2 separate regions of the Homo sapiens genome follow, and region 1 is linked to region 2. Evidence: fine-mapped expression QTL. A gene starts in region 2. The other region holds a variant in brackets. All regions are shown on one strand. Distances are from middle to middle.

Region 1 (5,378 bases), 270 kb before region 2:
AACAAACCTGAGAGGGGCTTCTGGCCAAGTTAGGTCAGAGAGCCCTTCTCTCTTACACACTAAGTATATTTAAGGGTTTTGGAAAGGGGGGCTTGTCATAGGTTTGGAATGTTTCTATGTGAAGGAAAGTTTATTGCAGGGTTGGAGTGTCTCTGGTCGGAGGGGAGCCTATCTCAGGGTTGGTATGTTTCTGGTCAGAGAGGGGTTTATCTTAGGGTTGGGATGTTTCTAGTTATGCTGACATTAGCCATTAGGCTGATGTTTTGGGGCTGGATTTAGGTGGTTTTTAAAGAGAACTTACAACGGTGGTGTTTTGTTCAAGATGGCGATGCTCCTGCTCTGTCACACAGATCATCCTAACAGATATAATAATGAAAGCAAATAATGAAAAAGATTGAAATATTTGTTGGAATCACCAAAATGTGACCCAGAGGCACGAAGTGAGCACATGCTCTTAGAAAAATGATACTGACAGACTTGCCCAACCACAGGGTTGCCACAAACCTTTAATTTGTAAAAAACAAACAAACAAAACAAAACAAAAAAACACAGTATCTGCAAGGTGCAATAAAGTGAAGTATAAAATGTGGTATGCCAGTATGATCCTGGATTGAATGATTTAGCTGTAAAAGAAATTATTTGGATAACTGGGGAAATTTGAATAGAGTCTGTGGATTAGGTGGTGGTATATGATGTTAAGTTTTCTTATTCTGATGGTTATAGTATGCTTATGCTGTAGCGTCTTTGTGAAAAATATACTCTAGCATATTCAACAGTGGAGGACATCACGCCTGCTGCTTACTGTAAAAAAGTTTAGAAAAAGAACAAATTTTAGTATAAATGATATAAATATAGCATATCTATTTGAGAGAGAGAGAGAATGATACGGAAATGTGCTCCAATGTCTACAATCAGGAAATCTGGGTGAAAGACATATAGGATTTCTTTGTACTGTTCATGCAACTTTCTGCTATTTTTGAAATTATTTAAAGTAAAATAGTAAAATGAAAATAGACTATGGGATGGCAACTTAATTATATCCATGTGGTGAAATATTACACACATTCAAAAACCACATTTAGTAAATGACATGAGCAAATATGTTTTCTTAAGAAATCAGTATATAAAACTATATGTGTAATATGGCTTAACCTGTCAAAACATGTGCCTAAGGGAAAAAGACATAAAGGAAATATATGACATGTAAAGATGGAATTATCATCAAATGATGCTAATTCTAGATGATCATGTATTTTTATTTTGGATTTTTTTTTTTAAACGTCTCCAGGTGTCTGGCTCTTTTAAGAAGAACAAAATGTTATTCTACAAAATGAAACCAACAATGAGTAAACTGGAGGCTCGAATACAAGTGTTCTCTCCATGCTGGGGAGCATTTTCCCGACGCCATCTGAAGCCTCAGAGTAGAAATCTTGTTTCACAAAATTCAAAGCTTCTGTTCTTACACCTGATTCCTCGGGAAACTCTTTTCTCCTACTTGTATTAACCAATTCAGCTGTGAGGAGCAAAGGAGACGGGGACTGCCCTTAGCTGGGCTCTGAAGGTGCGTATTTTAGCACCGGCTGAGAACTGAGTTAGCTAATCTTCAAAGAGGCTGCCTGCCATCCCATTCAACAACATAAAAAGCAATTTGTTTACGGGAAGAAAAGCCATTTCAACATGAAAATTGGTTTCACGACAATATGCCTGATAAAACAGCACATGAAAGAACCATTGGTCGGCCTCTCTCCCCTGGGTCCCCCCACAATCCCCGCCCTTACCCTTTCTTTCAGAACTGTCACCATAATGGAAAAGGAAGTTATCTCAATGGAAAAACATGCTGGAACACATTTTACCTCTGGAGTAATGGGCCAGGACTGCCCACACATTCAATGAAAAACAAAATATTTGGTCATTCTGCTCCTTCTACCCGAACGCATTCGAAAGCTTGCAATGCCATCATCTAGCGTTCAATCTCAAAAATTCATCCTTGACTCCTTCCCTTCTTGTTGATGGTACCTCCAGCATCCAGAGTGGTGTGTCAAAGACATCACGTCTAATCACGCTTTGCTTCAGCTTCAAATTTCTCACTGGCTCCCATTCACTCATATATTCAACAAGCAGGTTGCTATTCCACACCAGGCCAGAGCCCATGGGCATCCGGCAAGGTCACATCCATCCCCTCTTTGATGTCCCAGGCGCTTCCAGAACTGGGCCATGTACACCTTCTTCTAAGCACCTCAGCCCCATGCCTACCATCTTCTAAGCACCTCGGCCACACCCACCCTCTTCTACCCACCTCAGCCACGCCCAACCTCTTCTGCCCACCTCCACCATGCCCACCCTGGGTCTTCTACTCATCTCAGCCACGCCCACCCTCTTCTAAGCACCTCAGCCACGCCCACCCTCTTCTACCCACCTCAGCCACGCCCACCCTCTTCTACCAACTTCAGCCACACCCACCCCTCTTCTACCCACCTCAGCCATGCCCACCCTCTTCTAAGCACCTTGGCCATGTCCACCCCCTCAGCCATGCCCACCCTCCTCTACCCACATCGGCCACACCCCTTTCTAAGCACCTCAGTCAAGTCTACCCTCTTCTAAGCCTCTCATCCATGCCCACCTTCTTCTAAGCACCTCGGCCATGTCCACCCTCTTCTAAGCTCCTCAGCCATGTCCATCCTCTTCTAAGCTCCTCGGTCACCTCCACCCTCTAGGAACCTCAGTGCTCTGCCCCTCCTTAACCCACCCTACAGAGCTGATGGCTGTATTTGGAGCAGGCCTTCACTTTCAGGACTATATACTATGTTGCTACTTCCCTTATCTCTCTTTGCAAATGACAAACACCTATTTATTCTTTCAGATTTACTGAGTCAGGTCTCCTACTAAGCCCTCTTTAGGAAGAGGGAGAAGAGGCCCCTCTCCTCTGTAATCTCGTTGGAATATTTCACCACTGTTGGGGGAGGTTAGGAAAGCATGCTCAGAAGTGTCCTGTAATCTCAGCAATTCGGGAGACTGAGGTGGGAGGATTGCTTCAGGCCAGGAGTTTGAAACCAGCCTGGGCAACAAAGTAACACCCTGTCTCTGCAATAAATTTAAAAATTAGCTGGGAGTGGTGCTGAACACTTACAGTCCCAGCTACTAGGGAGACTGAGGCA[A/G]GAGGATCACTTGAGCCCAGGAGTTCAAGGCTGCAGTGAGTCATGATTGCACAACTTCACTCCAGCCTGGGTGACAGAGTGAGACCTTGTCTCAAAATAAGAGAGAGAGAGAGAGAGAGAGAGAGAGAAGAAAGAGAGGAACAGAGAAAGGGAGAAGGAAGGAAGGGAGGGAGGGAGGGAGGGAGGGAGGGAGGGAGGGAGGGAGGATGGAAGAAGCGAATGAAGGAAGCAAGCAGCCAGAACCAGAGTCCCACCTCCTTCTGCTGCTCCTGTGGACCTGCCCAGACAATTTTAGCACACGCAGCTCTACAGTGAGACCCACTCAGAGGAAATCTTGCTGAAAGTATTTCCCTCTCCCTCCTATCAAAGGAAGACAAGGGCAGAAGCCCCCTCAGGGATTACACCCCAACCTTGGCAGGCAGGGTGTGGCCAGTCTGGGCCTATGTGGCCTATGTCTGTTGAATGGTAGGATAAATGAATGAACAGAGGCAACCCTGGTTGGCTCTTGAGTGGTGTGAGCTGGTCCTGTACCCAGATACTGGGGTGGCCTTGGCAGGGCCCTGGAACCAAATGAGTGTTCAAGACAACCTCCTATCGGAGCTCATCAACTTCCAGGACAGGAGAGAATGTGTCACTGCCTCTCTCATGCACAGTCCTGGGGGAAAGCTGGCAAGTACATCAGGGCTGCCTGCCTGTCCAGCCCAGGGCGCTGGGGCCTTGCTCTGCAGTCCTGTGGCAGCTGGTTCCCCACCTGGGAGGAGGAAGACAGCCCCATTGTGAATGTCTCTAAAACAAAAGGTAGAAGATACTAGCCTCCTAGTGTGGACCATGGCAGACTCAAGCTATAGCAACTCCATGGGCTAAGCATGAACTGGTGCTGTGCTGTCCCTCAACCCAAGGCCAAGGTCACTGGCTCCAGCCTCTCTGCGTCCTGAGAAAAGTAGCAACAATTATCCAATAGAAAAATTAATCTCACTGGATGCGGTAGCTCATACCTGTAATTCCAGAAATTTGGGAGGCTGAGGTGGGAGCATCACTTGAGCCCAGGAGGTTGCAGTGAGCCATGATTGCACCACTGTACTCCAGCCTAAGTGACAGGGCATGATCCTGTCTTAAAAAAAGAAAAGAAAAAGAAAAAAAGGCCAGGTGCAGTGGCTCACACCTGCAATCCTAGCACTTTGGGAGGCTGAAGCAAGTGGATCACCTGAGGTCAAGAGTTCGAGACCAGCCCTGGCAACATGGTGAAACCCAGTCTGTACTAAAAATACAAAAATTACCTGGGTGTGATGGCACTTTGAGACCACCGACCCTTCGGCTAGGCCTATGCACGTGTCCCAAAACAACCTTTTGTGTCCGAGGGCTCAAAACTCCACCCTCAGATGATGCTAACATCACCATTTTTTTTTTCAAGACGGAGTTTCCATCTTGTCAATCAGGTAGGAATGCAATGGTGTGATCTCAGATCACTGCAACCTCCGTCTCCTGGGTTCAAGCGATTCTCCTGCTTCAGCCTCCTGAGGAGCTAGGATTACAGGCATGCATCACCATGCCTGGCTAATTTTTGTATTTTTAGTAGAGACAGGGTTTCACCATGTTGGTCAGGCTGGTCTCCAACTCCTGACCTCAGGTGATCCTCCCATCTTGGCCTCCCAAAGTGCTGGGATTACAGGTGTGAGTCACTGTGCCGGGCCAACATCACCACTTTCTACAGATGGGCCCTATGTCAAAACATGAGGCTTGATTACACCTGCACAGTGATCTGTTTTGGATGCTTGTCCCCTCCACATTTCAGGTTGAAATATGATCTGCAGGGGTGGTTCCAAGATGGCCGAATAGGAACAGCTCCAGTCTACAGCTCCCAGCGTGAGCGACGCAGAAGACAGGTGATTTCTGCATTTCCAACTGAGGTACCGGGTTCATCTCACTGGGGATTGTCAGACAGTGGGTGCAGGACAGTGGGTGCAGTGCACCAAGCATGAGCCGAAGCAGGGTGAGGCATCGCCTGACCTGGGAAGCACAAGGGGTCAGGGAATTCCCCTTCCTAGCCAAGGGAAGAAGGGACAAATGGCACCTGGAAAATCGGGTCACTCCCACCCTAATACTGTGCTTTTCTGACGGTCTTAGCAAACGGCACACCAGGAGATTATATTCCGTGCCTGGCTCAGAGGATCCTACACCCATGGAGCCTCACTCATTGCTAGCACAGCAGTCTGAGATCGAACT
Region 2 (5,378 bases):
GGAATGGAGAGGGATGAACCTGCATTGTTTATGGGCATAAATAATTCATAAGCATGGGTTAAATGGTTTTTAGCCTCTGGGACCCCATGGAACAGTGGTTCCCAGGCTGTTACTCGAAGACCCAATTCAAAGAATCACCAAGGAACGTTCCCTCCCTTTTAACCACGTTGGGCATCAAGTTACAGTCTTTTCTTTTGCATCTTGTGGTCTCTGCTAGATTTTACAATTGTTGAGGGCCACATTATAATCAGTTTTTTCCCTGTAATGCTTGATAATGGTTTTCCCCTTGGTCCTTTCCTCTAAAACCCTGCAAAGATGCACCACATTTAACCCACAAAAAGAATTTATTTTTGTTATAACTGAACATAATTCTTTCTTGAAGATATCTTTTGGACAAAATGTTCCATTGTGCGGGTCATGCCATATGGTGTGTAATGGGGTACGAGTTGCTGACAAAAAAGACGACAGGGCAGAGTGTGAGCTCCAGCCTGCCCCAAAGCTAAGCCCTGCATTTGCTGGAACATGAGAGCCTGGAGCTCTTAAATATGTAAGAGAGGTTGTCAAATCTACTTAACTGCTTATGAGCAATGAAGTCTCATCACTGCACTTGTGTTACTGACTCTGCAAAGGTGATTGTTGGCCATCATTTTGAATATCTTACTACTAAGATGTATTCAAAAGCACAAAAAAGAAATCTAAAACTGCCAATCTAGGACGTAGAAAATGTCCATGGAATTCCTTGAAAGATGCAAAAGCGAAATCCTTCTACATGATGTAAAATCAAAGTTGTTTTCTCCCTATCTCTGCCCAAAACCAATTAGATATCACGGAAATAAAATATATACACAAGCAAAGCCAAAATTTTAAGTCCACATCTGAAAACTGAAATGAGCTTTTCAAATCAGCTCAATTCTTCTGCAAGTGAGACTTCTCAGGAGCCCTAATGTCCCTTCATGTCCTGGCTTAAATTCGCATAAGCAAAACACCCTAAACCCTGGTTCTTCAAAATGAAAACCAAGACCCTATGAACGGCTCACAATTAAATTAACATTGAAAATCAGAGTAAAATAGGGAACTATATATATTTCCTGAACATAAATACACACACCTCCGTATCAGCTCACGAGCCAGCACCCTACCTTCTTACTTTCCAAGAAGCACTAGAAACTTTATTGCTAAAATCAGAAAAAATACAAGGATGTTTACTATCTCTGCTACTATTAACACTGTATTGTAGGCATTAACCAACATGATTAGACAATTAGAGGCATAAGATGGGAAAAGAAATAAAGTTATTTTAAGGTGATATGATTATATGTATGGAAAATCCCAAAGAATTCATGAAAAAACGATTACAAATAATAGGTGAATTTAGTAAAGCATTAGAATAAGACCAACATACAGAATTTAACAGGACATGTGTAGAAACAGAAGATAATGTATGAGCAGAGCCTATTTATAAGAGCAAACATAAAGGTTTTACAGATTTGAAAAAAACTATCAAAAGGAAAAAGCAAAGCAATTCCTTAAAATAGAAAATGAACTGAAACATGCAAACACAACTGTATTTCAAGTTAATGGCTTAACTACAGAGAAAACCGTTTTTTTCAAGTTACTTTAGAACATAATATTTTGACTGAGCTTTCCACGTGAGACCTAAGTCTCAGGACAAAAAGAACCACAAAGAAATCATACAAAAGAGATTCATGTAACATCATTAGGAATCAAGATTTTCTATGTTAGAGAAAAGAGCTGTAAATATAACAATTTTAAGGTTAAGTAAAAACTCTGAAATCTAGTTTGAATAAAAATATCACTGTGAACTCAATTTATTTTTGTCTTTAAAAAAATATGGACGTATCAGTTGTGTCACTGAAAAGACGTCAAGGTAATAAAACTCAGGCAATGAGCACTCAAATTGTAGTCTCAAAATACCACTTCCGGCTAAGTAATCAGCTCCATGGGAGGAAATACGAAAAGTCTTGTCAGGCCTAAAAGTGGATAAGTTCTCAATGATGCCAAATGACAGAGAAACTAACTGGAAGACACAGCCAATCACCAAATATGGTACAACTCATTATCCTGAAAATTGACATGAATGTAATTGCTAAGGAATAAAGTAATTACTCTTTTAAAGTAATAAGAAAAGAACCAAACAATTGTCCTGCTTTTTCCATACAGATTATATTCCAGGATAACCAAATAGTTGATGAAGCAACTCTCTTTTAGAGAGGTATCATAAACCGATAAAGAAAAAATCATAGATTAAAACACCACCATAATCCGGAACTTGTCTCCAGACTATGAAAGTACCCAGATGGCTCCCAAACCTGGCCCAGCTGGGAACTGCATGCAGCTGAGCCCACCATGCTCTTTAGTTTCTGTGCCCACCTGTGTGCGGAATTTATTCCTTCTGCTGGGTTGTTGGTCTCGCCGACTTTAAGAATAAAACCACGGACCTCGCGGTGAGTGTTACAGCTCTTAAAGATGGCGCGTCCGGAGTCGTCTGCTCCTCCCGGTGGGCTTGCGGTCTTGCTGACTTCAAGAACGAAGACGCAGACCGCGGCCGTGAGCTTTAAAGGTGGCGCGGACCCAGAGTAAGCAGTAAGCTTTATTAAGAAGCAGGAAAGAAAAAAACACAAACTCAAGCGGATAGCACCCCAGCGAGCTTCCCCAGCGGGCTCGGGGAGCCAGCTTTTATTCTCTTATTCAGCCCTGCCCATGTCCTGCTGATTGGTCCATTTTACAGAGTGCTGATTGGTCCATTTTACAGAGTGCTGATTGGTCCATTTTACAGAGTGCTGATTGGTCCATTTTTACAGAATGCTGACTGGTGCATTTACAATCCTCTAGCTAGACACAGAGCACCGATTGGTGCATTTACAATCCTCTAGCTAGACAGAAAAGTTCTCCAAGTCCCCACTGACCCAGAAGCCCAGCTGGCTTCACCTCTCACACCCAGGGGCCACTGCTGGAGGAGCAGCCCCAGCCCTTGTCCCCTCACCCTTCCCCCATGGAACCTGCTTTGGGAAAAACAAACTGGAACAATAAAAATGCCCCACATTCCAAATCAAGCCCTTGTCAAAGTCCCTTGCTTTCAGCCCAGGAAGTTTCTAGAAGCAGTCAAGCCACAGGACAGAGAAATATCTGGTGGCCCAGCTCTCCCTGGAGAATCCATCTCCCACCTCCAAAAGGAAGCACCCAGACCATGGAGGCCACAGCCCCAGGCCTGGCTTTCCTGGTAGGATAATATTTAGGGTTACCCTCTTTCTCCTGGGGCAGCTGGTCTAGCTCCGAGAAGGTTCTCTGATGGCTGTGCTGGCTCACGCTAAGCCCACCTGGAGTAGGCCAGTGGCTGGTGGCCACCTTCAGACCTGGGCTCACCCGGGGGGTTTGCACTGATGGACGCCCTGGCAGAGATCACAGAGGCAGGTTCTGTTAGACACATATGCACACATACACTCTTACACGTATGCTCACTTACATGCTTACACATACACTCATATGTACACACTGACACTTGTGCCCACCCACTCACACACACACACTCATACACACATATACACTCACACACACCACACATACACACATATACATTCACACACACATGCACACACACACCACATGTACACACACACGTATACATACACACACTAACATACACTCACATCCACACATACATTTACATACACTCATCCACACACACCCACGAACATACTCATACATGCACACCACACATGCACATTCTTACACACACGTACACTCACATAGACTCACATACCACACATGGACACACGTGCATACTCATACCACACATGCTCACATAAGGACACAAACTCACACATCAGATACACTCATAAACACGCACACTCACAAGCTCATACATGCATGCACTCATGCACACCACACACACACTCATACATATACACACTAACACATGCACACATACATATATACACTCTCACTACACATACGCATATAAACTCACAGTTATGCACACACTCATACACATATACATTCACACTCACACTACACATACACATATACACTTACACTTATACACACACGCACAGCACATATGCACACACATACACATAACAAACACACTACACAGACACGCACCACTCGCAAACATTCCCACTTATGCATTCACATGCATGGCACATACACAAACATGCACACACATCACACACACTCGTATACACATGCACACACACACTCTTACATACATACACACGTACACACCGCACTCCCATACATGCACCCTCACATATACTCCCCCTTCCTTCTGTTTCCATGATGTCTGCTGTCTCCAAGGCTTTCTGTTTTTGAGTCCCCTGCTACAATTAAAATACTCCTGAGAGCAATTAAGCTTTGGCAGCTAATAACTTAATTACCCACTAATACCGTATCTTCCCATCACCCTCGCCAAGCAGGAGCAGTGAGGTATGAGACGGATTCACTCATTGGAGGCAGACCGTGGGAAGATCCAGGATCCTAGAGTTTGGCGGGAAGCTCAAGAGACCCATGCTGGAGCCAGAGGCCCATGGGCCTCCTTGAGTCCTGGGGCCGAATCCTTCGTTCTGTGCACCTACTACAGAGCAGTGTCCTTAACCAGGGCTTAAAATTATCTACCAACATGAAGAGTGACCTACAAAAGAAACTGACCTGATCAACCCCTAGTTCACAATTGGGTAGAGCGAGACAGAGAGGCTGAGTGGCTTCCCAGGGTCACACAGCTTCTCTTGCAGGCCAGTGCCTTCTTGATGCCAGACCAGGGGTCCTGGGATGGGTGGTGGCAAGACCCTCACACCAGCCTCCCTGAACTCACTCCCCACTCCACCCTAACACTAGCATGGCAGCACAGAACTTCCCAGAGACGTTACAGAACAGCAGAGATTGGAAGTCCAGTGTTGGCCCCCAGTCTGGATAATTCAAGCAAATGTTTGAAGGGAGGATGTCCTGAATTTGCCATAAGCTGTATTTCTCCCAGGACGACTGAGAAGCAGTATCTGTAGATGGGGGAACATGAGCTCTGTACCCCTCTCTGTTGCCAAGTTCATCCATTTCATGGCAATGGTTTCCTTCCATTTTTGTGACATGCTTGGATGGCCCAAGACTCCACTGGTCATTTAATTTCCCTTCCCAGCCCCCAAATATATATCCTGAATTCCACATATGCTATGGAGTGAATTGTGTCCCTCCTCCAAATCCTTACGTTGAAGCCCTCAACCCCAATGTGACTATATCTGAAGATAGGGGTTTGGGGAGGTCATTTTAAATGAGGTTTTAAGGGTGAAACCCTAATCCAATTGGACTGTGGCTTTATAAGAGGAAGAGAGGGATCTCTATCTCTGCCATGTGAGGACACAGCAAGA

Which allele goes with the higher level. Positions count from the first base shown, and alleles are read on the strand shown. Sizes are in standard deviations (SD) of each study's normalised expression.
With allele G in place of A in region 1, the expression in nucleus accumbens of the gene that starts at base 2,672 in region 2 is higher (small effect, 0.17 SD a copy in GTEx).

The links. PIP is the estimated chance that this variant, and not a neighbour inherited with it, causes the effect.
Region 1: its variant is the best candidate, but not a certain one, in a credible set for the expression of CALN1 in nucleus accumbens (GTEx, PIP 0.66).

Annotation. Positions count from the first base shown.
Region 1 is chr7:72,137,023-72,142,400 of GRCh38, forward strand. The region is part of intron 3 of CALN1 (calneuron 1); the gene reads right to left. Among named protein-coding and RNA genes, the nearest start is that of CALN1, 270 kb to the right of the region's middle. The variant A/G (reference allele first, on the strand shown) is at 3,156.
Region 2 is chr7:72,409,667-72,415,044 of GRCh38, forward strand. It overlaps CALN1 (calneuron 1), which reads right to left and starts at 2,672. Exons shown (of 7, transcript NM_031468.4): 1 at 2,392-2,672.